Linked DNA regions of Homo sapiens: region 2 is linked to region 1. Evidence: fine-mapped expression QTL. Tissue or cell type: ileum. Region 1 holds a variant in brackets; the other region holds the start of a gene. All regions are shown on one strand. Distances are between the middles of the regions.

Region 1 (2,682 bases):
TTTGGAAAGATTATTCTAAGGTGTCAGATTAGGAGAGGAGATACCTGGAGGCAGGAAGACTAGTTGAGAAGGAATAGTGGTAAGTTAGAGCAGTTAGGCAATTCTTATGATTGAGAATGGGTTACAACAGCCATCCAATAAAAGCACTGACTCATTCAATGACTCACTTCGTTCTATGTTGAGCTGTTAATTGGCAAACAGAAACAGAGCTTTCCCACTCGCAAGGCTTCAAGAGAGAGAAATAAAATTTACCTGATTACGTTGTCTGATGTTAACAGCACTACGTGGGGATCCAGGATTTCACTTGGATACCATGCAGCATGCTTTAGAGTCAGAGAGGTGGAACTGGTGAAAAATCTCTCCGCAACTGGAGTGGTACTAAAATAAAGATAATAATTTTCCAAAACATTTTGTACAACTTGGATGAAAATCTTCTAAAGGAACTTCTTTTTTTTGCAGATGGAGTTTCTCTCTTGTTGCCCAGGCTGGAGTGTAACGGCACAATCTCGGCTCACTGCAACCTCCGCCTCCCAGGTTCAAGTGATTCTCCTGCCTCAGTCTTTCAAGTAGCTGGGATTACAGGCACCTGCCACCTCGCCCAGCGAACTTTGTATTTTCAGTAGAGAGGGGGTTTCTCCATGTTGGTCAGGCTGGTCTCAAACTCCCGACCTCAGGTGATCTGCCCACCTCGGCCTCGCAAAGTGCTGGGATTACAGGCATGAGCCACCACGCCAGGCCCTGAAGAAATTTCTATTTTAACACTCTTTGATTCTCTTTCCTTCAGATTTATTTCCCTGAAATCATGCTGAGAGGACATTCAAGGCATCTATTCAATCAATATCAAAGAATTGAAATAAAAATATCTTCTAAATTATAGCACACTGGCTGGGCGCAATGGCTCACGCCTATCTTAGCACTTTGGGAGGCCAAGGCAGGTGGATCACCTGAGGTCAGGAGTTTGAGACCAGCCTGGCCAACATGGTAAAACCCCGTCTCCACTAAAAATACAAGAATTAGGCAAGTGTGGTGGCACATGCCTGTAACC[C/CCT]GTTACCCGTGAGGCTGAGGCAGAAGAATCGCTGGAACCCAGGAGGTGGAGGCTGCAGTGAGCTGAGCTTGTGCCACTGCACTCCAGCCCGGGCTGAGGAGGTTGCAGTGAGCTGAGATCACGCCACTGCACTCCAGCTTGGGCTACAGAGCCAGACTCTGTCTCAAAATAAATAAATAATTTATTTATTTTAATAATTTAAATTATTTATTTAAATTTTATTTGTTTATTTATTTGAGATGAAGTCTCACTCTGTGGCCCAAGCTGGAGTGCAGTGGCGTGATCTTTGCTCACTGCAACCTCCGCCTCCTGGATTTAATCAATACTTGTGCCTTAACCTCCTGAGTAGCTGGGACTACAGGCGTGTGCCACCACACCCCACTTATTTTTTGTATTTTAGTAGAAATGAGGTTTCACCATGTTGCCCAGGGTGGTCTCAAGCTCCTGAGCTCAGGTGATCCACCTGCCTCGGCCTCCCAAAGTGCTGGGATTACAGGTGTGAGCCATCGTGCCTGGCTCCAAATTATAGCATATTTCATACGTATATATACATTTTAGGATGGTTTGACTTAGGATTGATACATATTTATACAGTACAAGTGTTTTCAGATATAGTATCTCATTTGATCTTTTTACTAACCCTGTAAGGAAATTACAAGGGCAGATATTATCAATCCTATTTTTAAAATGAGGAAACAGATTTAGAAGGTAAACAGTTTAAGGGGACTCAACTTATAAGTTGCGGAGCTAAAAGCAGTTTCTACCTTATACAGATGATCCCCAACTTTACAATGGGTTTACCAGTACATAAGCCAACATAAACTGAGGAGCTCCTTACGACTTATGATGGGGTTACCCATCATAATGTTGAAAAATCCTACGTTGAACCATCCTAAATCGGGGATCCTCTGCTGTGTTGTCAGCAATAAATCCATTTTCAACTTACACTGGGTTTATCGGGACATAACCCAATCGTAAGTTGAAAAGCATCTGTACTCTTTTCAGTAGATCTTTCAGATTCACTTTTCTGGATTTGTTGAAAAAGAAATTATATAAAAATAGGCCAGGTGCGGTGGCTCACACCTATAACCCCGGCACTTTGGGAGGCTAAGGTGGGTGGATCACTTGAGGTCAGGAGTTCAAGACCAGCTTGGTCAACATGGTGAAACCCCGTCTCTACTAAAAATACAAAAATTAGCTGGGCATGGTAGCGCTTGCCTGTAATCCCAGTTACTCGGGAGGCTGAGGCAGAAGAATCGCTTGAATCCAGGAGGCGGAGCTTGCAGTGAGCCGAGATTGTGCCACTGCACTCCAGCCTGGGTGACAGAGCAAGACTCCATCTCAAAAAAAAAAAAAAAAAAAAAAGTATATATATATATACACACATACACACACACACACACACATAAAATACTTACACTTCTGGCAAACTTCTGGCTGACAGATAACTGGTTTTACAAAATCTTACTTCTACCTAATCGAAAGAATGGCCTAGCCTCAAATGAGACAGCAACGTGGTACTTCAGGCAGAATAAAGTACAATCAATTACACATATACTATGAACATTGATAACACAGAAGCCAGTCTGCAGACCACGAGGAGTGTTTTAATGTTTTAAGAGTAGTATACTAAACAT
Region 2 (2,682 bases), 380 kb before region 1:
CTGTGGTTACAGAGGGTAGTGATGGCAACAGCAACAGGAGACCCCGGAAGGCGGCAGCTGAAGTGACCAGAAGGGCAGTCAGTGCCCAGAAGAAGGTGCTGGCAGGAAAACGCTCAGGGAAGTCGAGGGGAGGCCCAGAGGTGCCATTGGTGGGCGCTGGTGGGCACTCGAGGCGGCCCACACCTTGCACTAGGGCCAGCACACAGGGGAGTAGGGCACTGAGACCCTGACCCAGGAAGAAAGACCGTAAGAAAGGAGGTGGCAGGTGGCTCAGGAAGGGCAGGAAAGTGACATTAGAGGTACAACAGGCCATTGCCAACACCAAGGCCAGAGTTAGGAAGGCCACAGAGTGGAGCTGCCCTGCCACTGGGGCCACGTGGTGCCACAGAGGGGCCAGCAGGGCTGTGCCCACTACACTCAGCACCTGTACCACCTGGATGGGGACCTGCTCGCCCTTGCCCGGGGCCAGCTGCCTCCACAGGGTCACCACCAGCAGACCCAGGTTTCCCAGCGCCACAACCACAGAGAGGTATGAGGGGAGGCTCCAACCTGCAGGGAAGGAATGATGCCATGTCAGGAGCACAGTGGCTAAGGGACAAAGAGCTGCCACAGGCCACCTTTCTGGGCATACCTGCCCCACGCTTCCCTGTACCTCCCTCCCACTCACCCTCTGGAAGGTCTTTTACCACCACAGGCAGCTCCACCCAGATCCCGTTCACAGCAGCCCAGGAGCCCATGCCAAAAAGGGCCACCAGCAGGTGGGTCAGCACCAGACGGCCCAGCGTGGGTGCTGCCATTCAGCCCAAAGCTGGACCCTCCAGGACAGGGCAAAGGTCACAGGCAGGTCCTTCCCTAGGTAGGTCCAAAGATGCTTTGGTTCTTCTGGAAACTGAAGACCTTCTAGCTGGAGGGAAACAGACAGGCTGGCAGGTAATAGGCTGGTGGGACAGAACCGGAGTCAGAAGACAAGTCGGTCAGACTGCTAAGACCAGGGCAACTGGAGGGAGAGGTGGCCGGGGGCGGGCGGGGAAGGTGGGGAGCCAGGACTTACCACGGGGCACCGGCTGTGCGTTTGGGTACAGCGACCCAGCAGTGCCGGCAGGCAGACAGGCAGAAAGCTGGCCCGAGGTGCAGCTGCCCCAGAGGAGCAAAGAGGGAGCTGATTTTCCTACCCACAGAGGACCCGGGGTCCAAGTTGTCAAAACAGCTCAGCACTGGCCGGGTGCGGTGGCTCACACCTGTAATCCCAGCACTTTGGGAAGCTGAGGAAGGCAGATCGCCTGAGGTCAGGAGATTGAGACCATCCTGGCCAACATGGTGAAAACCCGTCTCTACTAAAAATACAAAAATTAGCTGGTCGTGGTGGTGGGTGCCAGTAATCCCAGCTACTCAGGAGGCTGAGGCAGGAGATTCACTTGAACCCGGAAGGTGGAGGTTGCAGTGAGCCAAGATCACACCACTGCATTCCAGCCTGGGCGACAGAACGAGATTCGGTCTCAAAAACAAAACAAAACAAAACAAAACAAAAAAACAGCTCGGCACCAACACGCTCACCCTCAAATGGACCCCGGGACAAGGGCACGTCTCTGGTGCCACTTGCAACCCTAGCGCTTTTGCGACACTCAGGACTTGCTGAGGCAGGTCGAGTTGGAGAGGGGAGTGGCTGGGGCGGGCTCTGCCCGGAGGGGCGTCTCCGTGCTGCCCTCCCGCCTGCCTCAGGGGGGCATCCCGGGAGCCGCCAGGTGCGCAGGGGTCCCCGCACCTCCGGATCCGGCAGTCCCCGGACCCAGCGGCTGGCGGTCTGCCTGAGAGGGAGCCCCCTCCGCCGGGGAGGCGGCCCAGCCCAGAGCCCACACAGCTGGGGTTTTGTTGTTTGTTGTTTTAATTAATTAATTAATTTTGAGACGGGGTCTCACTCTGTCACCCAGGCTAGAGCGCAGCGGTGCGCGATCGCGGCTCACTACAGCCTCAACCTCCCAAGCTCAAGGGATCCTCCCACTCAGCCTCTCCCCACCCCCCCACAAGTAGCTGGGACCACAGGCGAGCATCACCATGTCCAGCTAATTTTTTTTTTTTTTTTTTTTTTTTTTGGTAGAGACAAGGTCTCACTATGTTGCTCAGGCTGGCTTGGCACTCCTGGGCTCAAGCAATCTTCCTACCTCAGCCTCCCAAGTAGCTGGGACTACAGACGCACCACACCTAGCTACCGCCACGCTCAGCTGTTTTTACACTTTTTTTTTTTTTTTTTTTTTTTGAGACGGAGTTTTGCTCTTGTTGCCCAGGCTGGAGTGCAATGGCACGAGCCTCTGCCTCCCGGGTTCAAGCCATTCTCCTGCCTCAGCCTCCCGAGTAGCTGGAATTACAGGCGCCCACCACCATGCCCTGCTAATTTTTGTCTTTTTAGTGCACAGGGTCTCGCCATGTTAGCTAGGCTGGTCTTGAACTCCTGACCTCAGGTGATCCACCTGCCCCGGCCTCCCAAAGTGTTGGGGATTACAGGCGTGAGCCACCGTGCCTGGCCAGCTGTTTTTACACTTTTAAATGGTTGAAAAAAAATTAGCTGGACGTGGTGTGCACACCTGGCTAATTTTTGCTTTTTTTTTTTTTTTTTTTTTTTTTTGAGACGGAGTCTCGCTCTGTCGCCCAGGCTGGAGTGCAGTGGCGCGATCTCGGCTCACTGCA

The links. PIP is the estimated chance that this variant, and not a neighbour inherited with it, causes the effect.
Region 2: SLC52A1 starts here. The variant in region 1 is fine-mapped to the expression of SLC52A1 in ileum (GTEx, PIP 0.98).

What each region holds. Positions count from the first base shown.
Region 1 is chr17:5,413,757-5,416,438 of GRCh38, forward strand. It overlaps NUP88 (nucleoporin 88), which reads right to left. Exons shown (of 17, transcript NM_002532.6): 3 at 253-378. Among named protein-coding and RNA genes, the nearest start is that of NUP88, 4.6 kb to the right of the region's middle. RefSeq lists an enhancer at 1-747. The variant C/CCT (reference allele first, on the strand shown) is at 1,046.
Region 2 is chr17:5,033,810-5,036,491 of GRCh38, forward strand. It overlaps SLC52A1 (solute carrier family 52 member 1), which reads right to left and starts at 1,617. Exons shown (of 5, transcript NM_017986.4): 1 at 1,052-1,617; 2 at 668-904; 3 at 1-549. The coding sequence starts at 797. All of the region lies in intron 3 of LOC105371501 (a long non-coding RNA gene), which reads left to right.